Linked DNA regions of Homo sapiens. The protein of the gene in region 4 interacts with the protein of the main gene of each other region in a pairwise test. Each region holds a gene or a part of one and is shown on either strand. Other genes may lie near its edges.

Region 1 (3,500 bases), on a different chromosome or scaffold from region 4:
CACGGGCACTCAGCAGTGGGGCCGGGCCATGTCCAGGGCCCTCCCACATCCTCCAGGAAGGTGCTTTCAGGGACCTGCTCTTTGGATGTTCAAAAGGACATGTGAGGGTCTCTGGAGAGTGAGGAGAGGACCCAGAGTGCCATGGAGGGACCAGCCGGGGCGACTTACAGACTAGCCCAGCAGATCACACGGCCCGCGTCTCGGCTTCGATCTTCTGCTCCCCGTGCAGGTTCTCTGGGCCCAGCGGCTGCGCCACACTCTGGCGGATGGCAATCTCGGGGCCACCTCCATACAGGCTGTTCAGGTAGGTCCAGGTCTCCTCCGAAATCTGCCCGTAGTCAGCTCCTGCAGGGCACGAGAGGCACCCCTAGGCTCACCTTTGCCTCCTCAAGGAAGCCACCGGCCTGGGCAGTGGGGGCTCCGCAGGGCCAGGCCCCGAAGCGGGAAGACGGCAACCAGGGCTTCTATGCAAAGCTGTCAGATGGAAATCAGGATTTCCCAGAGGAATGTCCATCCCGCTAAGGGCCCCGGATAACACATCTCTGGCTGTGTCCCTTGTTCCTGGGGGTGGGGCTGACATAAACAGCAGGGTGGGCAAGGCCAGCAGCAGGCAGAGGGGTGGGACCTGGAGGACACAAGCAGAGACCAAGCCCCTTGGGCCATCTCTCAGCCGCCTGGGTCTGGACTCAGGTGGACGTCTCAGCCTGACTCTAAGACAGGTGGTAAGGGGGCTCCTGGAAGGACGGGACTGGGCAGCAGCCTGGCAGCCAGGAAGGGCAGAGAGGAGCCTGGCTGACCCCAGGGGGAACTCACCCTGCTTCAGCTGGACATGGCCGCTTCCTTTGACCTGTGCAATCCTGCTGTTGTCAATGGGCCCGGGGGGCTCTGCAACAGACACAGCGGGCTCGGGTTCAGCCCCTGCCATGCCCTCCACCCTCCACAGCAGCAGAGCCATCCCAAGTGGGGCCGCCCCAGGCCTGGGGGTCAGCGTGAAGTCTCTAATGGATGAGGCGCCTGAGCCACCCAATGCTCCTCTGTGGCAGTCTGAGGACCCAGCAGAGGGAATTTCCAGGACACACGAGATGGTCTCAGACTCTGTGCTGGCCGCAGGAGCTGCGGTGGATGGCCCATGCCCTTATCTCTGCTGGCAGCTGCCGCTCACCACGCCCCTTCCCCTCTGCCCAGCTATCTCATTTAGCCTCGGCAACCACAGGACAAGACAGAGGTTTACAGAGACAGAGCCGAGGCCTGGGAAGGTGAAGTAACCACTCAGGTCATAGCTGGTAGAAGGCAAGGCCAGCGTCCAGGCCAGGGCGAGGGCTCCGGAGCTACATTCTCAACCACAGCCATGCTGAAGGCCTCAGCCACCACCAGAGAGGCCTCACGGTGGCCCTGGCACCTTCCCCGACTAGCGGGATGGCAATGAGGCCTCCCTTCCCAAGCACAGGTGGGTGCTCATGCTCCACACCAAGGGTCCCGTGAGCAGAACCGTGGGCTCTACCCACCCTGCCGGGCCCCGGAGCCACAGGTTAGATTATGCCCCGAGGGCGCCCCAGCCGAAATTTTTAATGCAGGTTTAATAGTTTAGAGCCTGTGGGCTTCCATGGCTTGGTTCTGCTGTTCTTCACTGGGGACTTGGGGGACCCTGGGAGCTTGTGATGGGGCCTGTCTCCACCTCTGTAAATCCAAGGAGTCAGATGACAAATCTGTCATTTCGGGCGACACACTCCCCTGAGGAAAGGGCCTTGCAGGAGGGCAGAGCAGCTTGCTGGGCATGGCAGGGAGTGGAGAAGGGCAGGGGGCGCAGAGCAGGAGCAGCTTCCTGCCTCTGGGTGGGGACAGTGATCCCCACTGGGGACTGGCAAAGCCCCATGCTCTCTGTTCACCCTGGATGGGTGGCACCTGGGGGCAGGCATGGGGCCTGCAGGAGCCCCTGTGTGCCAGCCCTCCCCTGCCAGCATCCCATCTCCCAGGAGGCCCCCAGGGCAGGTAAGTGCCAGGTCCCCCCTCAGCTCACCGTTGTCCTTCCCCTTGACGAACGCCTCCCACTCCCGGAACCACTGCATGCTGATGCAGTAGATGACGCCCGGCGACTCCTCGGCCTGGAAGGCCTTGTTCAACTGGCAGGCGGGCAGGGACGGGAGGAGACAGAGGGCAGGTCAGTCTCTATTTACCTTCAGCAAGGATTTCCCAAATGCCCCCGCCCCAGTCCCTCACCCAAGAGTCTTACAAAAACACCAGATACTCAAGGTGAAAAATCAAACCCCCAGACAAGCTCAAACAAAATGAACACACCCATCACTCAGAGAGGACGGTGGTAACATTTTGTGGGTCTCTTCAATAACTGTTTGACCCAACTGAGACCACAAGGGAGATTCTACTTTTTGAGAAGGAATCTCACTCTGTCACCCAGGCTGGAGTGCAGTGGCGCGATCTCGGCTTACTGCAACCTCTGCCTCCCAGGTTCAAGCGATTCTCCCACCTCAGCCTCTTGAGTAGCTGGGATTACAGGTGTGTGCCACCACCTGGCTACTTTTTGTGTTTTTAGTAGAGACGGGGTTTCGCCATGTTGGCCAGGCTGGTCTTGAACTCCTGACCTCAGGTGATCCGCCCACCTCGACCTCTCAAAAGTGCTGGGATAACAGGCATGAACCACTGCGCCCGGCCTGGGAGATGCTAATTTTCTCCGGTTGAATAGAATGTGCCTATCTGCTCAGAGAGGCAGCTCTCCTTCTGACAGGAGCATTTTCTTTTTCGAGATGGGGGGTGGTCTCACTCTGTGCCCAGGCGGGAGTGCAGCGGCGCAATCATGGCTCACTGCAGCCTTGACCTCCTGGGCTCAAGTGATCCTCCCACCTCAGCCTCCTGAGTAGGTTGGACCACAGGTGCATACCACTAGGCCCAGCCCTGACAGTCTCTTTTTCGTTTGTGTTCTGAGACAGGGTCTCACTCTATTGCCCAGGCTGCGGTGCAGTGGCATGATCACGGCTCACTGCAGCCTCAACCTCCCAGGCTTAGGTGATCCTCCCAACTCACTCAGCCCTCCAGGTAGCGGGGACTACAGGTACACATCACCATGCCTGGCTAATTTTTGTATTGTTTGTAGAGATGGGGTTTCGCCATGTTGGCCAAGTTGGTCTTGAACTCCTGGGCTCAAGTGATCCACCTGCCTCGGCCTCCCAAAGTGCTGGGATCACAGGCGTGAGCCACCATGCCCAGGCAGCAGAATCATTTCCTAATGGCCACAAAGCACGGGCGTCCCTCAGTGTCTCTCACCAGGCCCTCCCTGTGAGTGGAACACGTCCTAACCCTGTTAGAAGTAGCGTGGCAGGGAGGGAGTGCGCCAGGAGCCTCGCCTGCACTCAGCTCCCTCACAGAAGTCCCTCTTCTAAACACAGTCACACTTGAGTCCTGGTTTGCACCTTGGTTTTCACTTCCTGCTTTATCTTGGGCAGTCTGTAGAGCCCAGTGGTTCTCACCCAGGGCAGGGAGGGTACTCT
Region 2 (2,565 bases), on a different chromosome or scaffold from region 4:
CAAGACCCAGCATTCGGGATTGAAAGTGCCCGTGATGGGAGTTCAAGTATTGACTGAGCTGGGAGGGAAGGGGCTAGAGCCCCCAATCAGACATGGGCAACTAGAGTGTGGGGTGGGGGCTCCCAGTTTGTCCCAAACCCTCTAGGTCTTGTCTCGGGTCTGGGGGGATTCGGGGGGTTCAGCAGTGGCTCCTAAAGCAGCCACCGGTGCCTCCTCCATCTCCCTGTCCTCAGACAGTGTGGGCCCCGGGCAGAACGTGTCCCCTCGGCCCGCCCGGCCAAGCACAGCCATCCAGCGTCGCTGTAGTTCCTCTGTCTCAGGGCTGAAGTACCAGCTGAGGTGGCTCTGGGTGATCTTGAAGACATGCCTTCTGTCAGGCCGCTCCCCTGCCTCGGGCGGTCCCACCTCGAAGCCAATGAGGGGCAGGCTGCGCTGGGCTTTCACATCCTGGCGGGAGGAGGGACAGAGCTGGGGCCACCTTGGGGCTAGACCTTTCCCCCGCCCCAGCTTCTAACTGGTTTTGCATATGCTCTGTCTTCAGTCCCCTACTCAGGAACTCCCCTACTCAGGAACCTTCCGTGGCTCCAGTGTTATCAACAGGAACATGTCAGAACTGGGGCTAAAATGCAGGCTGGTTTAAATACCTGTCTCCCCCCACCCCCGCCTCTTCTCACAAAACTGCTGGGCTAGTCTCTTTAGCATACCAAATAATGTTTTCAGGCCTTTGTCTATGCTATTGCCCCTATCTGCATACTTTTTTTTTTTTTTTTTTTTGAGACAGAGTCTTGCCCTGTTGCCCAGGCTGGAGTGCAGTGGCATGAACTTGGCTCACTGCAACCTCTACCTCCCAGGTTCAAGCAATTCTCCTGCCTCAGCTTCCTGAGTAGCTGGGACTACAGGCACACGTCACCACGCCAGGCTAATTTTTGTATTTTTAGTAGAGACGGGGTTTCACCATGTTGGCCAGGCTGGTCTTGAACTCCTGATCTCAGGTGAGCCACCTGCCTCGGCCTCTCAGAGTGCTGGGATTACAGGCGTGAGCCACTGCGCTCGGTCCCATCTGCATACTCTTACCCACTCCAAATTGGACCTAGCAGTTCCCCATCTCTACTCCTTCCAGGAAGCCAGGCCCACAACTCATCCTGGTTTTCCCTACATACCACAACCACTCCTTGTCTCTAGCCAGTCTTTGTCTCTCAAGGGTTGGGGTTCTGATTTCCTCTTAGAGATAGGCTCACCTTATCTTCCAAGGCTCACCTTATCTTCCAAGGCCAAGGAGAGGTCAAGGACTGGATCTGGCTTTGCCAGGTGGCTGAAAGGACCCGAAGGAGTAGGATGCATACCTGAGGGGCTCCGTAGATATACAGCACCAAGGGTTCATTTTCAGGGACCACGAACCATGCCTTGTGCCATCCTTTGCCACCCTTCTCCATGTAGTGCAGGAAGCTGCAGATGACGCTGTTCTCTGCAGCCACTGAGGCCTGTTTCTGTGGCCAGAGACACCGGGCATCAATGTTGACAGAAGGCCTAGCCTGGCTCCTCCTAGCTTTAATACCTCCTCAGTGTAGGGACTGCTATTCCTATCTCAGATGAAGACGCTCAAGCTCAGGTGGCAGGAGTGATTTGTCCAGTGCCACCCAGTGAATCAGCTAGAGCTGAGATTCAAAGCTAGGTTCGTCTGCCTCATTTGGGCAACGGCTGCTGCCTCTACAGGCCAGTGGAAGGAGTGTGCGGATCTCAGGCATTCTTTCTTCAGTCAGAGCATTCATTCCTCAAGCCATTCACACATTTAGGCCTCATGCTTTTTTCTGTCTTTCATCACATCCATTTCCTACACTCATTGAGAGGTAATCTAGCATTGTGGTTTTAAGGGGGTATGTGGGTGGTTAATGAAGTCTGGCTTAGAATCCCAGCTCTAGATGAAAATGTATTGACTTGGAGAGCAAAGAGAGCTGATGTGAGAATTAAATGAATTAATATATGCAAAGTGCTTAGAATAGTTCCTGGCACAGAGTAAGTACTCTTTTAAGTGTTAAATAAATACCTAGATTTGTTTTTAAAAAAATCTCCAAAATGTGTGTTTGTGCATATATGCCTAGAAAGATAGGATAAGCCCTCACAATGGTAACTTTTGGGTAGAAGGGATACGGTATTTTATTATTTTTTGTTTATATTGGTCTACTTATCCTACTTTGTAATAACAAAAGACAATTTTTAAATTTTTTTTTTTTTTTTGAGACGGAGTTTTGCTGTTGTTGCCCAGGCTGGAGTACAATGGCGCGATCTTGGCTCACCGCAACCTCTGCTTCCCAGGTTCAAGCGATTTGCCTGCCTCAGCCCTCCCAAGTAGCTGGGATTGCAGGCGTGCGCCACCATGCCTGGCTAATTTTGTGTTTTTAGTAGAGATGGGGTTTCTCCACATTGGTCAGGCTGGTCCTGAACTCCCGACCTCCGGTGATTCACCCGCCTCAGCCTCCCAAAGTGCTGGGATTACAGGCATGAGCCACTGTGCCCAGCCAATTTTTTAATTTTAAAAAAATCCAGTGCTGCCACTCATTTGCTGTG
Region 3 (3,500 bases), on a different chromosome or scaffold from region 4:
ATTCTCCTGCCTCAGCTTCCAGAGTAGCTGGGGTTACAGGCACTCACCACCACGCCTGGCTAATTTTTTCTATTTTTAGTAGAGACGGGGTTTCACCATGTTGGCCAGGCTGGTCTCAAACTCCTAACCTCAAGTGATTCGCCCACCTTGGCCTCCCAAAATGCTGGGGTTACAGGCATGAGCCACTGCGCCTGGCCCCAAAGTAATAAATATTATCAAAACAATTTTACTATGATCCAAGAACAACAACAACAAAAGGAATGAGATGGGGGGAAGACTTTTTTTTTAATCTGAAAAGATTTTACTTAATCAAATTGTGTAATAGATTTTTCCATTCCCTAGCCCTAGTATTTTTATAGCAAGGAACTGCCCTTCTTTTTAAAGCCCCAAAGGTACGTATATAATACAGTGAGTTTGACAGATGTACAGAACAGTGTAACCACCGCAATTTGAAGCTATTTCTTAATTTGTCTTGAGATCACGGAGCAATAAGATAGAGATTCCACTTAAGTCCCTGGATATGATAGGGGACAATGGTTAGAGAGAAGGGTGACTAAACGTAACCTGTTAGGAGAACAAATGTCAGCAGCTCTCCCCTCAATAGTCAACCTGATCAGTCTTTGCAATCAGAGAGAGGGAGGCTTTTGCTGCTAGGCCACACTGAGTACACAGTACTAAAACCAAGGAAAAAAATATAATCTTAGGTGAAAGTAATGTAACAAACAATAAATAATTGTGCTCGTGATAGGATTATACTTAGGCCAATTCTTTTTGCCTTGAAGTTGAAAGGGGCCTGCTACTCTGCTACCGAGAGCTATCAAGATATCTAGGCAAAAATATTATGAAAAAACATTAACAGCAAGCTAAATTTTGACATACCGTTCTCTGCTATCCAATTTATACCAGATTTCATAGCTACCAGCCACATGTGGCTACTTAAATTTAAATGAATTAAAATTAAATAAAATTTAAAAATCAATTTCTCATTTGCACTAGCCAAATCTCAAGCGCTCAATAGCTATATATGGGTGGTAGCTACTATACTGAACAGCACAGATATAGAACATGTCCCTCCTGCACAAAGTGCTATTGGATAGTGCTGATATAGACCTATCAACAGCTATCAAGTCTGCTAGCTAAACTGGCAAATTAAGAAGACATACAAATATAATTCTTTGAAAAAGATGACCAGGCAAAATTATAATCTCAAGCTGAAAACCAAAAAACATATGGTTCCAATTTCAAATAGACTTTTCCTGAACCTGATTTCAAACCTGGATATCATTTAAATTTCTCAAGTAGTTTAAGAAGTAATCTAGCCCATTTAATTCTATTCGGAATTAAATTTTATGGAAAATGCAATACATTAGATAACACATCTATCAAACTTATTTACTTGAGAAAAACTCAAGGAAAAGGAGAGAAATGAAATCAACTTAGACTGAATGTCAGATGAGTCTTCCAATCCAGTTTTACCAGCCAACTACTTTGTTTTGATTTCAATAAATTTTGCATGAGATGCTTAGTAAGTCTAGAGTAATAAAAATTCTTAAAGTGTTGGTGAACTCACCTCTAAATCAGTTCCTGCCAGAGTTGCTCCTCTGAGGTTACAGTTCTTCAACTTTGCATTTTTTAAGGTAGCCACTCTCAGGTTAATTCCTGTCATCTGACTTCCTTCCATATCCACACCTTTCAGATTAGCACCTACAGTGAACACATTCTGGGAGTAGTTTAACTTAAAAATATAGTTATCTACCTTCAACAGAACTGCAAGATGACTTAATGGAGGCCTCTTTTAACTTTTGGAAATTAATCTAAAATCTTGTCTCTCAACGAACTTATATATATAAACAGTTTACTGATGAAAGAATGCTTTCACAATACTTTTGAGGGAAGAAATTTAGTTCTGTCTTATGATAGTTAGCACTTTCATAATATGCCTCTACAGGTTTATGATAAGGGAGTGAAGTAGTCTCCTAAATATACAAGTAAACAAAGTGATCAGTCACAGATAGTAACAAATTAAGAAACAATACATTAAATCTAAAAATGATTTTTAAAAACTCCCTGGCTTTATGCAAATGAAATTTTTCCTTTTGGTCAGTGTAAGAATATTTTATTCCATTTGAAAGTTTAAGATGTTGATATTTAATTTTCCAACTAAAACCTTATTAAATATTTGAGGTTTTATTTTTTCTGAGTCCTCAATTTTGATTAGCATTTGACTGAAACCAAATGGAGGTTTCTTACCACTTTGGAAGTTCTCCAAATATGATGACAGAAGAAACCTATCCCCTACAGCTATCCTGTTTCACCCTTAACAATTATTTTCCAGGGCTTTTTTCCTTTACAGTCTGCTTCCTTCGTAGAATAGGTATTTACAGAAAGGATCTCACCTTCTAAATTGGCTTTAAGACCAGAAGGATCCTCAAAATTACACAGTTTCAGGGATGCTCCTTCTGCATTAGAACAGAGCATCTTGACTCCCTGGAGATTCGCACACTGCAAAGAAAAGAGAAAAGTCCTGGTTGTAAGGTTCATAATTTTGTTCAAATTAGCTCAAACAGTAAAAGAAAAAAAATAGAAAAGAGGGAAAGGCTCAACTCAAAACACTCATACTCAATTTTATTTTCTGTTTACAATAAAGGCTTTTCTAATTAAATACAGTAAGAACTGGGAACATTTGAAAGAAAAATTTTTTTAAAGAACTGTTTTTTAAAAAATAAATGCAAATTAACAATAGCATGCTCATTTTACATGAAACATAACGGTTTAGATAAAGAAGTTGGGTGAGTCAGAACTCTGACACCTCTATCTCTATTTTTATAAACATACCTATGCATGACAATGAAACAGTCAAAATGTATGGGTAAGGAAGGCATAGACTTGTTAGGGGTATGGATTTTCTTATTACTGTAGGAATCTTGATGTTCTAAGTGAAATTCTTGATATTCTAAGATGCTACTACTGCCCTCAAGTCAGAGGTCAGAATACAAAAGCCAGCATTTAAAGGCATTATTTAGCTAGAAAACACTAACAAGATGCTGGCTGGGTCTTTCTGCACCAACCATGGCTAAACATTATTAACCCTGAGCAGGCACATCACAATGCATAATGCAGGGCAGAGAGTAAAATGGTAGAAAATATATGTTTTAAGACTTTATTTTTTTGTTTTGTTTTGTTTGAGACAAAGTCTCACTCCGTCACCCAGGATGGAGTGCAGTGGTGCTGTCTCAGCTCACTGCAATCTCTGCCTCCCAAGTTCAAGTGATTCTCGTGCCTCAGCCTCCTGAGTAGCTTGAATTACAGGCATGCACCACCACGCCTGGCTAATTTTTGTATTTTTAGTAGAGACGGGGTTTCGCCATGTTGGCTAAGATGGTCTTGACCTCAAGTGATCTGCCTGCCTCTGCTCCCCAAAGTGCTGGGTTTACAGGCATGATCCACCACACGCAGCCAAGAGTTTTAAATTATGTTCATTTATCTCAAAGCGTTTTTGA
Region 4 (3,500 bases):
CCTCTTTGACTTTGTCTTAATTATCCAATGACCTTGTGGCTGCTCTAGGCTGCTCCCAAAGTCAAGGTGCTGGGAAACATTCCCTGGCAGGCCCCCCACCATCAGTCTGAAGGACTCTGTTTCTTTGGACACATGATCCTTTGGAGTTAATCCTTCCTTCTCAGTTCTGGCCTCATCCCCTATCACAAAAAGAAAATACAAATGTCAGTCCCTGATATCACACACACACACACACACACACACACACACACACACACAATATCTGTGCTGAAGAAGAAACAGAATCAAGTGGTTCTAATTTGCCCTGAATATATGGATATTTTCTAATATGCTCACAAGATGGCTGCCTAAGATCACCACACAACAGAGCCCTGCAAGGGACATGAAAACTCTATGAGACGGGAGGGAAGCAAGGCCAGGAGGCATTCCCATAAACAGTGTGAAAACCAGAAAACTGCAAAGACTGTTAATTAGGGCAGAAAGACTAAGAGAAAAATGAATGAGGTGGATAAAGATGCAAACATAAAAAAAGTAACAAATGGAAATCCATAAGTGAGAGGAAGACTCCCAAGATTAGAGAAGGGGCAGGCTGAGCAGTTCAAGCACTACAACAGGTCCCACAGGCTGAGATTCCTTAAGAGATGCTTGTTAAAAGACATCATGCATGTCATAACCTTGAAAAGAGAGCTGATCTCTACCATCAAGCTGGCTCTAGTAAAGCAGCAGGCTCCCATGCAGTGGTTGAGGATGCCATGCATGGCAACCACCACAGCATCCAGGAGAAAGGAAGGTTTGGAGGCTTGCCTTTAAAACCAAAAAGCACTGGAAATGTGAAGAACTCTTCCAAGAGTGAATGTAAGTCCCAAAGAGGGCCTGGTAACGATGCTTGCCATTTTTCCTAAAAGGTCTCATAGGTTGTGCATTTGTTTAATACAACAGTTTGAAAAGTGAACTACTAAACTCACATGATAATAAGGGAAAACCAAAGAGAAATATTCCCTCCACTATCAAAACCTTTTGCAGACTAAGTAAAATCTTCAGCCTGCATGCATTCACAAAAAATTGTTCAGAAAATATTTTTACTCAGATGACGTAGGGTCCTGAGGTCACATCCAGAAAGGTACAACTTAAACTCAAGACTTGGGGGTGGATCAGTAATGGGCATTCTCTGCAGAAGAGCACAGAAAATTTTCACAGGCAGAGAATGGGTGAAGCAGAATAAGAAAGATTAAAAAATATACTATGTTTTATGTATTTATTTATTTTTGAGATAGAGTCTCGCTGTGTCACCCAGGCTGGAGTGTGGTGGTGCAATCTTGGCTCACTGCAACCTCCACCTCCTGGGTTCAAGTGATTCTCATGCTTCAGCCTCCCCAGGAGCTGGTACTACAGGTGCACACCACCATACCCAGCTAATTTTTGATGTTTTTGGGTTTTTTTTGAGACAGAGTCTCGCTCTGTCACTCAGGCTGGTGTAGGGTCCAGCCCTACTGGGCCTCTGGGTTTTTCTCCTCATGTGCAGAGACGAGAGATGGTAGAAATAAAGACACAAGACAAAGAGATAGAAGAAAAGACAGCTGGGCCCAGGGAACCACTACCACCAAGATGCGGAGACTGGTAGTGGCCCTGAATGCCTGGCCGTGCTGTTATTGATTATGTACAAGGCAAAGGGGCAGGGTATGGAGTGAGAGTCATCTCCAATGATAGGTAAGGTCACACGAGTCACATGTCCACCAGACAGGGGGCCCTTCCCTATTTGGTAGCCGAGGCGGAGAGAGAGAGGGGACAGCTTACATCATTATTTCTTCTAGAAGGCAGAGCCAGGTGTACAGGGCAGAACATGAAAGTGGACCAGGAGCGTGACCACTGAAGCACAGCATCAACAGGGAGATGGTTAGGCCTCCGGATGGCTGCGGGTGGGCCTGACTGATGTCAGGCCTTCCACAAGAGGTGGTGGAGCAGTCTTCTCTAACTCCCCCGGGGAAAGGGAGACTCCCTTTCCCGGTCTGCTAAGTAACGGGTGCCTTCCCAGGCACTGGCGCTACCGCTAGACCAAGGTCTGCTAAGTAAGGGGTGCCCTCCCAGGCACTGGCATTACCGCTAGACCAAGGAGCCCTCTGGTGGCCCTGTCCCGGCTTGACAGAGTGCTCACACTCTTGTCTTCTGGTCACTTCTCACAGTGTCCCTTCAGCTCCTATCTCTGTATGGCCTGGTTTTTCCTAGGTTATAATTGTAGAACAGAGATTATTATAATATTGGAATAAAGAGTAATGCTACAAACTAATGATTAATAATATTAATATATAATCATATCTATAATCTATTTCTAGCATAATTATTCTTATTCTATATATTTTCTTTATTATACTGGAACAGCTTGTGCCCTCAGTCTCTTGCCTTGGCACCTGGGTGGCTTGCTGCCCACAGGCTGGAGTGCAATGGTATGATCTCAGCTCACTACGACCTCCACTCCCCAGGTTCAACCGATTCTCCTGCCTCCGCCTCCTGAGTAGCTAGGATTACAGGCACGTGCTACCACGTCCATGCTAATATTTTGTATTTTTAGTAGCGATGGAGTTTCACCATGTTGGCCAGGCTGGTCTCGAACTCCTGACCTCAGGTGATCCACCCACCTCGGTCTCCCAAAGTGCTGGGATTACAGGCATGAACCACCACACCTGGCCATATATATATATATATATATATATATATATATATATATTTTTTTTTTTTTTTAGTTGAGACGGGGTTTCGTCATGTTGGCCAAGCTGGTCTTGAACTCCTGGCCTCAAGTGATCCACCTGCCTCAGCCTCCCAAAATGCTGAGATTACAGGTATGAGCCACCATGCCCAGCCTATTTTTAATTCTTATATCAATAGCCATCGAAGTGAGAAAGTTATTCACCTTTAATTTACAATAAATTTTGCTTCAGAAATTTTTTTAAGTATCTGTGGGGGAAAGATGAAATAAGAATCAAAGGATATTTGTGACTGTTGAAGCTGGATGAAGGATACATGGAGTGCATTATGCTGGTGTTTGCATATATTTGAAAATTTCCATTATAAAAACAAACTTTTTATTCTTTAAGTCAGTGCTTAAACAATGTAGCCTATGATATGCAGATGGCCAGCCATGTTGCCAGAAGCCTATTTTCCTCCAAAGGTGGCTGACATCCTCATCTTTGCAAAAACAAACTGGCAGAAAAATAAAATGTTTTCATGTGACAGAGAAGAAATGAGCTGGTTTAAGTGCTGCCCAATCAGACAGTCTCCCTTGGCAGGTTGTGAGGAGGACAGGCAAAGACGAATATGCAAAGAAATCTTACAGTCATTCCTGTCTTAAAAGAGACTGGCCCTTCCCCAGTTGAGGTAGGCTACCACCATGAACTCAGAGAATCACATGTAATGATTCCACAGGAACAAAAACAGTCTCCCAAGAGAAGAAACACTTCTTGCACAATGAAATGTGAAAACAAGAAAGCAAGCCAAGCCAAAAAGGC
Region 5 (3,500 bases), on a different chromosome or scaffold from region 4:
TTAAGTCTTGGGAACAAGAAACAGGATGAGAAGTGTTTTAATTGGAGAAAACTTACGTTGATCATGATCAGGTTACCAGTTCACAAAGGAGACACACTGAATCACTGTTTGATAGTAGGCAAGATGTCAAAGGTTTTCTCTACTACTAGAGCAGCAGCATAAATCCACCCTAAGTCACCAGTGATAGAAATGCTTTCCTTTGATATAAAACATTTAACAGAACTAGAAGAGCATTAAAATATTTTTAAAACACCTTACTCTGGCCGCAGAAGCAAAAGAATCAGGGCCATGCGCTGCATTTCTTATGCCATCTGTTCCAAAGAGGGCTCTAATGCTTTCAGAAGCATCTGTGCGTGCCACTCCAGAGTTTGCAGGTCCCAGCAGTCTTTTCCATTCACATATAGCATCATCTCTTAAAATCTCCATGGCAATAATAGGACCAGTTGTAATAAACTGGATCAGCTCACTACAAAACAGATAGAAGATTAGTTTGCTTCTTTTTTCTGTCAACTAGGTATTTGTCTTAACGACAGGATATATTTAAATTGGATTATTTCAACATAGACATGAATATTATAATCTTAGAACCATTAAGCATAGTTAATTTTACATGGGCAGGAGAAATTTTTCATAAATTGAGTGTCTTGCAGTGGCTCAATTCACTTCAAATCACTAGTAATGTCAAATTACTGTTACCAGAAAAATCACTGTTCTGTTGAATTAAGACTATTTCATGACTTAAAATGCATACTGTTGACCTATGCTTTTCCCAGTGCTCTAACAGGTACAGAGGATTTTCCTTTTTATTTACATGTGTTTACCACTGCAGTCAAGTACAATTTCACAATATATAGGGATGGATGCCTTGTAACATATTTTTAGTAAGAATTTATTTATTTTTGTGTAAAACTATTAGAATTCAAAGACTGACAAAGAACTCTCTTAATCAATAAACACTGAGCTGGTTTGGTGATAAAAAAAAAAATCCCCAGCAGGCTTCAAGAAATATCCTTTTATTAGCGTAAAAACTACTCTGGGTTATTTCTGTATTAAATTATTAAAGTGTACGCATCGGTTCTTGACTAAAAATCCAGCACTGAGTCACAGTCCCCCAAGGTATAAAAGACAATACTTCATTTTATTTTCTACTTTTATATGTGTACAGGATGCAATGACAAGTTTAACTATGAAATAAGTGACATCCTCCCTCTGACTATATTAAGCAGGGACACAGTACTTTTTAGAGTAAGCCCATGGTTTTCTCTCATCCAAAGTAGAGAGAAGAGATCCTCCTGGAGAAAGGAGCATGGTGTGACAGGCTCTTTTGTGCCCACTAACTTATGACTATTTTTTACACACTTCCTTCCACCCTGCATGTTATATGTCAGCTCCCCTCAGTACTTCCTTTTTAAAACACTCCCATTCATTTTGAAGAATATTTCTAAAAAACAGCATGTACAAAAAAGTATTCTTGTCTTCTATCCTAAGAGTTCTATAATACCTCCTCATACATTTTCTGCCAGACCTTTGCTGCCAAAACAAACAAAACCCCCAAGACCAACCACTAGATTTAAAAAAACCCAAATCAAAGGAGCAAACCATGTTTATTCACTCAATAAGCATTTAATAATTGCCTATAACATATCAGCGTCTGTGCCACAAAAAAGATCCCCCTTCAAGACACTTACAATCTAACGCCCTATTAATACAAAATTCTCAAAACACACAATTGAATAAGCCTATGAATATGGCATGTAACAATATAGGGAAGGATGTGCCTGATCATAGATACTGCTTCATGAAAATTTAATTACTTCACCTAGTCTTTTGTTACATCATTCTCATTAACAGGCAACTAGTTAATTCATTCCTTTAATAAAATTTACTGCATGCAAATCACACATAAATCATTAGACTAGGAGTTGTAAGTTAATGCTATAAACATATACAAAGTTTATACCAAAAGATAATTTCCACCAATTTTCTAGAAAAGTGTATATAGCTATTCTAAGAAGGCTTAGGAATATTTTATAACACTTGATTTGAAATAATCTATAGCATAATAATTTTCTTACATACAAATTTTTTTAAAAACCCACTACTCAGTGCAGGATATCAAATAACATGTCTACTGTGGCCATTTAGTTTGGCTGATGTAACATTCTTTCTTATTAGAAGTGTAAACAGTCTTTGGCAACAGTAATAATAATATGAGCATGCAAAATATTCACTTAAATTTAATTACATGTCAAATATTTAGAATACATAAAGTGTAACATATATTATCTGTTCTATGTCAAGGAACAAAATATATATCAAACTAGTTAAAATAGAAAGGTTCCATGAACATTGCTTTATGTATACAAGACTACCAAAATAGTTTAAAAGTACAACAGGCTACAGTAACCAAAACATCATGGTACTGGTACAAAAACAGACACATAGATCACTGGAACATAATAGAGAACCCAGAAATAAAGCCACACATCTACAGCCATCTGAACTTTGACAAAGTCAACAAAAATAAGCAATGGAGAAAGGATTCTCTATTCAATAAATGGTGCTGGGATACCTGTCTAGCCATAAGCAGAAGAAAGAAACTGGCCCCTTAACATTAACCATATACAAAACTTTACTCAAGATGGATTAAAGATTTAAAAGTAAGACCTCAAACTATAAGAATCCTAGAAGAAAACCTAGGAAACACCATTCTGGACATTGGCCTGGGGAAAGAATTTATGACTAAGTCCTCAAAAGTAATGGCAACGAAAACAAAAATTGACGAGTGGGACTAAAGAGCTTCTGCACAGAAAGCTTCTGCACTAGCAACAGAGTAAAAAGACAATCCACAGAATGAGAGAAAATATTCACAAACTATGCATTCAACAAAGGACTAATATGCAGAATCTGTAACGACCTTAAATAATCAAACAAGCATGAAACAACCCCACTAAAAAAAGAGCAAAAGACATAAATACACACTTCTCAAAAGAACATACAAGCAGCCAATAAGCATACGAAAAAACGCTCAATATCACTAATCATCGGAGAAATGCAAATCAAAACCACAATGAGATACCATTTCACACCAGTCAGAATGGTTATTATTAAAAAGTCAAAAAATAACATGCTGGCAAGACTATAGAGGAAAGAGAATGCTTATACACGGTTGGTGGGAATATTAATTACTCCAGCCATTGTGGAAAGCAGTGTGGATATTTCTCAAAGAACTTAAAACAGAGCTACCATTTAACCTAGCAATTCCATTACTGGGTATATACCCAAAAGAAAAGAAATTCTGCCAAAAAGACACATGCCCTCATACACTCATTGCTGTGCTATTCACAATAGCAAATACATGGAAATAACTCAAGTGCCCATCAGTGGCAGATTGGATAAAGAAAATGTGGTATATATATATAACACAGAATTCTACACAGCCATAAAAAAATAAAATTATGTCCTTGGCAATAATATGGACACAATTGGAGGCCATAATC
Region 6 (3,500 bases), on a different chromosome or scaffold from region 4:
TGTGCCCCTCTGCCAGGTCCCCCAGACACCTGCTCCTCCTCTAGCATTCTGTTTTGTTTTCTGAGACAGGGTCTCGCTCCGTCACCCAGGCTGGATCATGCAGTAGCATGGTCACGACTCACTGCAGCATCAAACTTCTGGGCTCAAGCAATCCTCCCGCCTCAGCCTCATGAGTAGCGGGGACTATAGGCACATGACACCATGCCCAACTAATTTTTTTATTTTTGTATTTTTTGTAGAGATGGGGTCTTACTACATTGGCCAGGCTGGTCTCGAACTCCTGGCCTCAAGCAATCCTCCTGCCTTGGCTTCCCAAAGTACTGGGATTGCAGGCATGAGCTACCCTCCTCTAGTATTTCTGTAGCTTGAGTGAACTTCTGCTGTTCTAGGTACCCACAGTTCACCATCTGCCTCCCCACCCATCTACGAGACCCTTGAAGGCAGGGACATGACTTTCCTCTGTTTTTCCCAGGCTCAGTTATAGAGCCAGCTGTGGGCAGCTGCTTGGGAGGCGCTGGTTAAACCGAATGGAGGAACCAGTGGAGCTGAGATGCCCGTGCCCGCAGCCACCAGACCCTGGCTGAGCTCTCTCCAAGGTTATTACCTGGAGGCCATGGAGTGGAACTTCTGGAAGGCAAGAGAGAGGGAGGTTAAGGCTAGAAGGTGGGAAGCTAGGGCACTGTTGGGAAGGGGAAGGCCCTGGCGGGTATGGGGATGGGACGCCTCCCTGTCCACTCACCCGGATGAACTTGTGGTGGTCCTCATTGCCGAACTGTTCCAGCACACACTCGGCTTGGGCCAGCCGCTCCCGGGTTCCCTGGGCCTGCTCCAGCTGCATGTCCAGGGAGGCCACCAGGCCACGGGTGTGACCCCCTATCCCCTCCAGGCAGCGGGCCTTCTCCTCATCCACCAGGTGGTGCAGCTCCTGGAACTCGCGGCGGATCACCCAGCTGAAGACATCCGACTCATTCTGGGACAGGGAGGGCTGGTCACTGCAGAGTCACAGCCGAGCTGCCAGGCTCTGTCTGGCTGGCCTCGGTGTCCCCAGGGCCTTCCTGACCGGGTTGGTCCTGGGACCTGAGTCTCAGGGGAGGCTGCATGGCCTGGCGCCGGGCAGGGAGTTCACCCCATGCATGGGGAGCCCTGGCGGTGGCCGTGGGGAGGGTGACCCCAGCTCCCGTTTCAAATGGAGAGGCTCTGTTTTGGCCTGTTTTAATTTTTTTTTTTAAGAGACAGGGTCTCACTCTGTTGCCCAGGCTGGAGCACAGTGGCATGATCATAGCTCACTGTAGCCTTGACCTCCCAGCCTCAAGCAATCCTCCCGCCTCAGCCTCCCGAGTTGCTGGGATTACAGATGCACGCCACCACACCCCACTTTGCCTATTTCAGCTATTAAATGTGCATATCCCAGAGTTCCACAACTGAAGGAAAGCAGGAAGGCCCTAGGCGAGCAGGCTTTGCTGTGAGGGAGCCAGAACTCCCTGCAGAACCCTGAGCTCCGCCTCCACCAGGCAGGGCTGGTACCGCCTGCCGCGCAAGGGTGAGGAGGGTAAATGAGGGAGGCTGAGTGCTCCTGGATCTTGCCCGGCTCCTGTTTCTGTTTCACAGCCACCTCCAGGGCCGGGGCACTATGGCTCCCAGCCCCATGTGCCTCTCACTTCGGGAGATCAGCCAGGGCCCAGGGCTGCCAGCCTCTCCACGCCTGAGCACCCAGGTACTGGGAGGGCACCATGACAGGCTGGCAAGGTCAAGCAGACACAGGTGGCACAGGGGCGGAGGAGTCATGCCCATGCTTTGAGCTGTTTACCCCCTGAGACTCAAGTCCTGGGTTATCTCAGTCTCAAGGACACAGAGGGCAAAAGCCAACTTGGAGCCAGTCCTAACGACAACTGGGTTGAATTCCCCTGAGAGGATTTGCGCTTTCCCCACCCCGCCCTGGGAATGCTTTGAGTTCTGGCTTTATATGGAAGGCATGGTTTTCTGTAAAGGACCAATGAGAACTGAGTTCTACAGGAAAGTGAAGGTGGCCGGTCCCAGGCAGGGGCAGAGGGAAGGGGCACTCACGACGATTCGGGTCCGGTTGTTCACCAGTTTGGCGATGAGCTCATCCACCTTTTTCTGCTCCTGCTTCAGCTCAGAGATGAGGGCTGCGAGCTCCTCCTGGAGGCAACAGGCCATGGCCCCATGAGCAGCTGATCCCTCCCCTTCTCAGCTCCTTGGATCACCTTCTTGGGAGTATCCCAATGGCCACAAGCACTCCCAGGGAAACCAGGGCGGGAACCAGAGCCACCCAGGTACCCTTGAGTCCAAAACAGGTTAAATTGTTCGAGAATAGTCTGGGCGCAGAAGCTCACGCCTGTAATTCCAGCACTTTGGGAGACTGAGGTGGGACTTCACTTGAGGTCAGGAGTTCGAGACTAGCCTGGCCAACATAGTGAAACCCCATTTCTATTAAAAATACAAAAATTAGCCAGGCGTGGTGGCATACACCTGTAGTCCCAGCTACTTGGGAGGCTAAGGCACGAGAATCGCTTGAATCTGGGAGGTGGAGGTTGCAGTGAGCCAAGATCATGCCACTGCACTCCAGCCTGGGTGACACAGTGAGACTCTGTCTCAAAAAAATAAAAATAAAAAATAAGATAAATTAATTCAAGAATATTCTAGGCTGGGCGCAGTGGCTCACGCCTGTACTCCCAGCATTTTGGGAGGCCGAGGCGAGTGGATCACCTGAGGTCAGGAATTCGAGACCAGCCTCAACATGGAGAAACCCTGTCTCTACTAAAAATACAAAATTAGCCAGGCGTGGTGGTGCATGCCTGTAATCCCAGCTACTCGGGAGGCTGAGGCAGGAGAATTGCTTGAACCTGGGAGGCAGAGGTTGTAGTGAGCCAAGATCGCGCCATTGCACTCCAGCCTGGGCAACAAGAGTGAAACTCCGTCTCAAAAAAAAAAAAAAGGAATATTCTAGGCTGGGCACAATGGCTCGTGCCTGTAATCCCAGCATTTTAGGAGGCCAAGGTGGGAGAATCACTTGAGGATAGGAGTTTGAGACCAGCCTGGGCAACACAGTGAGATCCCATCTCTAATTTTTTTTTAAAGAATATTCTGCATTGACAGCAGGAACTTCCCAGGCATAAGAGGGTCTCAATGTCACCCCTCTGCATGACATGGAGAGAGTCACTAAACGTTACAGCTACCAGAAGTCACCATGTGATGCTGGCACTTCCTGGATTGAATGCTGCCTGTAGGGGACCCATCAGGTGAACTCTGTGGTCACCAGCAGATCCAGAATTAGTGGGTATTTAATCAGGAGCCATCACAAAAAGGCCGGCGCCAGGTGAGGCTAATTCTAGGGCCAGTGGTGCTCACACGGGCCTGGGTTAAACCTGGTGAATCCCCACACCCATAAACACCTGAATCCATTCCTGGTGGGCTTGGACACAGCACGGATTTGCGACCTCCCCAAGCTGACATAAATGCACTTCTCCTGGACTGCCCGG
Region 7 (3,500 bases), on a different chromosome or scaffold from region 4:
GTCTCAAAAAAAAAAAAAAAAAAAAAGGTGGGTGGGGGCTTATACTATGTGTGCTGCTTGGCACTGTTTTTTTCACTTAAAATATATTGCAGGTTTTTTTTCACGTAAGTATCTGAAGAAAGACTTCCTTTTTTTTTTTTTATTTTTTATTTCTTTGCTTTTTTGAGACAGGGTCTTGCTCTGTTGCCCAGGCTGGAGTGCAGTGGTGAGATCAGGGCTCACTGCAGCCTCCATCTCCTGGGCTCAAGCCATCCTCCCACCTCAGCCTCCTGAGTAGCTGGGACTACAGGCGTGTGCAACCACATCTGGCTAGCTTCTGTATGTTTTGTGAAGATGGGGTCCCACTATGTGGCCCAGGTTGGTCTTGAACACCTGGGGTCAAGTAGTCCTCTTGCCTTAGCCTCCTAAAGTGCTGGGATGACAGGCCTGAGCCCTGCGCCCGGCCAGCCTCCTGTGCGAGGTTGTGGGGGGACTCTGTCGTGGAACCCAGTACGTCTTCGTGTGCTGGCTTGTTTGTTGGCTCTGTAGTTAACGGGCTGCCCCACGTGGACAGGCACTGGGTTGTCTGTGTCTCTGTGTGCAGGCAGAGGCTGCTGCATGTGCATCTGTGCACATGGCTGCCAGGAGGGGCTGTGCTCAGGGGGAGCTGGGGCAAAGGCTGGTGGCACTGGGGGGCTTGGGTGTAGTGTGGAGGCGTGAGAGCCAGGTGGCTGGGGTGCAGTCTGCGGGAGCTCGGGGGTCTCTTGGCCTCCGTGTGTCCTAGTGTCTTTGTTGGTGAGATGGGACAGTGACAGCACACCCTCACAGTTGCTGGGGGCTGACAAATGTCAGGTCTGAGGACAGTTGCTGGCCCACTATGGGGCCAGTTCCCCTTCTCTACAGTCACCCTGCTCGTCTTCCACCGACTGGGTGCTCAGGACAGTGGCGTGGTGGATCCGCCTGTACATCCTGTGCTCCAGCGTCCTGCAGGCCACAGCTGTGTCCAGCCCTGACCCCGACTGCCCCTCCCGCCACCTCCATTTTATAGATGAGGAAACCGAGGCCCAAGGGCTTAGGGAACCCTGCTCTGAAGCACACAGTAGGGCTGCTGGGCTCAGACCCTCCCTCCCTGTGCTGAGCTGCCCTCCTCCTGCCGCAAGCCCCCCACGCCCCAAGCCCACCCTGCTCACTGGCCTCTGCCTGAGTTCCCCCCATGGTGTGGGAGTGTGGGGCAACCTAGCTTTTCCCCGGCACCCAGTTCTTTCACTTCCACTGGCGTCCTGCAGGGACAGCTCAGGGACCATGCAGGCCCGGGTGGGCGTGGAGGCTCACCTAGCTCGGTGGTGAACAGCTGGCACGTCTCTGGGTTGCGGACGGTAAAGGCCACGTAGACCTCAGGAGCCCGCTGGTGCTCCCGGCAGGCAGCCAGCCTCCGCAGGACCCCGACCAGCGACATGATGGCTTCTGGGCAATACAGCACATCTATGGTGAAAGCTTCAGGTTACTGAAAGGGACCAGTGGACAGGTCCAGGTCATGCTGACGTCAGCAGCAGGGCGAGGCCAGAGAGGCAGCGGTCATATGAGACTAGTAGATGCCATTTGACCATTTGGGCCATTAGATGGAAAGGCAATTACTTGGGTGAAAAAGGAGAACCCTTAGTAGAGAAAGCTGCAAAAGACCGAAGCAAAAGAAAAAAATCTCCAGACTCACTGGTGTTCCTTAAAAAACCAGCTCTGGTTCTTGGCCTATCTAGAGGGCTTTGAATGACACAAAGCCTGACCCTGCCATGAACTTCATGTTTCAGGCATCTGCTGATTTGTCTGCTGGCTTGCAGGGGTGGGCTTGTGTCCCTGGCCACCGCTGGACCTGTGGGTTTCAGGGCTGGGACCTAGGACCACAGGCAGAGCTCTGTTCCACCAGAGAGGGGACTGAGTGTGCTGGCAGGGGTGAGGGGTTTTCGGTGGCCCAGCCAAACACCACCTTCTCTCAAGGGCCCTGTCTTCGTCCCAGAAGTGGTTGTTTTCCTCCTGTGGTCTCTGAAGGACACAGGGCATGGCTCTGGGACAGAGCCATGTGGTAACGACTGGAACGGGAGTATGCCTGTCTCCAAAAAGAGGGCTGTGGGTTGAAGGTCACCTTAAGAGGCACCCCTGTCCTGTGATGTCACCCTGGAGGCCCAGAGTAACTCTTCTGGAAGCCCCATCATGTCCATGCCCGACAGCGTCCATTGTTCCCTTTTCCCAGAGCCAAGAGCTGGGTAGAGCTGCAAGGACACCACCTGCACAGGGTGCCCGGGGCTGGGCATTACCTGCTGCAATGACAACATCTGGCTGGAAGGCAGAGAGCTGATGGACCGTCGCGACGTCCCAGTCCAGCTGGGCCACTGTCACCCTGGGGCTGTCTAACTTGGCAGTGATGTCTGCCTCTAATGAGAGGCCATTGAGAAGGACATTCCCTCGGAGCTGCTCAAGGACCCGGCTGTGACAGTCGCTGAAGATGTATGCCCGGGGGCGGCACATCTTGCAGATGGCCAGGCCTGTGAGGCCAGCACCACTGCCAAGCTCTAGGACAGTCCTGGCGGGAGGAAAGGGGACCGTGTCTGCGACTGCACCAGGGTAAGCCTGCCTCGGTGCCCTGCCCTGCGCCCCGAGGTCACCTGTTAGTGAAGACTGCCGGGTTCTCGATGGCCCATTCTGCAAGGTAGAGGGCGGCGTCCCATGTGACCAGGCCTGTGGTACCGTAGGAGATGATGGCCGTGCTCTCGGAGAGTGTGACCGAGCCTCCCGAGGGCTGCACCAAGAGAAGGCGAGAGAGTCAGTCCAGCGATCAGAAGGCAAGTGGCTTAGAAGACAAGTAGCCCCACCACATGGCTGAATAAACCATGACAGGACCAATCGCCACTCAGCAATGAGAAGCAGCTAACTGTTGGCATGCCAACAGCTTTCACGGGCCTCAAGGGTGTCACGCGGTGTGAAAGACACTCATCTCAGGCCACACAGGATTCCATTCATCGAACCTTCCTGAGACAACGGAATTCTGGCGATGGAACACATGTCAGTGGTGGCCAGGGGACAGGTGTGGCTATGAAGGGGTGGCTGCCTTGTGATGATTCAATATGCTGTTTTTCCTTTGTGGTTTTCTGTATCTATGTTTTATCTTATTTTTTTTTGAGCTCTGTCACCCAGGCTGGAGTCAGTGGCACGATCTTGGCTCACTGCAACCTCTGCCTCCTGGGTTCAAGCAATTCTCCTGCCTCAGCCGCCCAGGTAGCTGCGAATACAGGCGTGTGCCACCATGTCCGGCTACTTTTTGTACTTTTTTTTGAGACAGAGATTTGCTCTCGTTGCCCAGGCTGGAGTGCAATAGCATGATCTTGGCTCACTACAACCTCCACCTCCTGGGTTGAAGAGATTCTCCTGCCTCAGCCTCCCTAGTAGCTGGGATTACAGGTGCCCACTACCACACCCCGCTAATTTTTGTATTTTTAGTAAAGATGGAGTTTCACCATGTTGGCCAGGCT

What was found.
Region 1: the proteins of ZNF620 (region 4) and USP20 interact in binary tests that used the Homo sapiens proteins (3 or more experiments, as listed by UniProt).
Region 2: the proteins of ZNF620 (region 4) and TSR2 interact in binary tests that used the Homo sapiens proteins (3 or more experiments, as listed by UniProt).
Region 3: the proteins of ZNF620 (region 4) and KCTD9 interact in binary tests that used the Homo sapiens proteins (3 or more experiments, as listed by UniProt).
Region 5: the proteins of ZNF620 (region 4) and NME7 interact in binary tests that used the Homo sapiens proteins (3 or more experiments, as listed by UniProt).
Region 6: the proteins of ZNF620 (region 4) and TRIM50 interact in binary tests that used the Homo sapiens proteins (3 or more experiments, as listed by UniProt).
Region 7: the proteins of ZNF620 (region 4) and EEF2KMT interact in binary tests that used the Homo sapiens proteins (3 or more experiments, as listed by UniProt).

What each region holds. Positions count from the first base shown.
Region 1 is NC_000009.12:129,876,958-129,880,457, reverse strand, and holds part of USP20 (ubiquitin carboxyl-terminal hydrolase 20), read right to left. Parts: intron 2,121-3,500; coding exon 2,018-2,120; intron 886-2,017; coding exon 814-885; intron 346-813; coding exon 185-345; 3' UTR 169-184; exon of another isoform or gene 1-168.
Region 2 is NC_000023.11:54,445,968-54,448,532, forward strand, and holds the end of TSR2 (pre-rRNA-processing protein TSR2 homolog), read left to right. Parts: 3' UTR 1-141; coding exon of another isoform or gene 142-447; 3' UTR 448-1,343; coding exon of another isoform or gene 1,344-1,487; 3' UTR 1,488-2,065; downstream 2,066-2,565. Other genes in the region: FGD1 (FYVE, RhoGEF and PH domain-containing protein 1), read right to left, coding at 142-447, 1,344-1,487. UniProt on the Homo sapiens protein: May be involved in 20S pre-rRNA processing.
Region 3 is NC_000008.11:25,430,934-25,434,433, forward strand, and holds part of KCTD9 (BTB/POZ domain-containing protein KCTD9), read right to left. Parts: intron 2,503-3,500; coding exon 2,397-2,502; intron 1,721-2,396; coding exon of another isoform or gene 1,705-1,720; coding exon 1,571-1,704; intron 1-1,570. UniProt on the Homo sapiens protein: Substrate-specific adapter of a BCR (BTB-CUL3-RBX1) E3 ubiquitin-protein ligase complex, which mediates the ubiquitination of target proteins, leading to their degradation by the proteasome.
Region 4 is NC_000003.12:40,512,539-40,516,038, reverse strand, and holds part of ZNF620 (zinc finger protein 620), read right to left. Parts: intron 180-3,500; coding exon 1-179. UniProt on the Homo sapiens protein: May be involved in transcriptional regulation.
Region 5 is NC_000001.11:169,298,298-169,301,797, forward strand, and holds part of NME7 (nucleoside diphosphate kinase homolog 7), read right to left. Parts: intron 467-3,500; coding exon 259-466; intron 1-258. UniProt on the Homo sapiens protein: Possesses an intrinsic kinase activity. Displays 3'-5' exonuclease activity with a preference for single-stranded DNA. Does not seem to have nucleoside diphosphate kinase activity.
Region 6 is NC_000007.14:73,318,083-73,321,582, forward strand, and holds part of TRIM50 (E3 ubiquitin-protein ligase TRIM50), read right to left. Parts: intron 2,161-3,500; coding exon 2,065-2,160; intron 993-2,064; exon of another isoform or gene 971-992; coding exon 740-970; intron 628-739; coding exon 605-627; intron 1-604. UniProt on the Homo sapiens protein: E3 ubiquitin-protein ligase that ubiquitinates Beclin-1/BECN1 in a 'Lys-63'-dependent manner enhancing its binding to ULK1. In turn, promotes starvation-induced autophagy activation.
Region 7 is NC_000016.10:5,087,796-5,091,295, forward strand, and holds part of EEF2KMT (protein-lysine N-methyltransferase EEF2KMT), read right to left. Parts: intron 2,771-3,500; coding exon 2,637-2,770; intron 2,555-2,636; coding exon 2,289-2,554; intron 1,462-2,288; coding exon 1,312-1,461; intron 1-1,311. UniProt on the Homo sapiens protein: Catalyzes the trimethylation of eukaryotic elongation factor 2 (EEF2) on 'Lys-525'.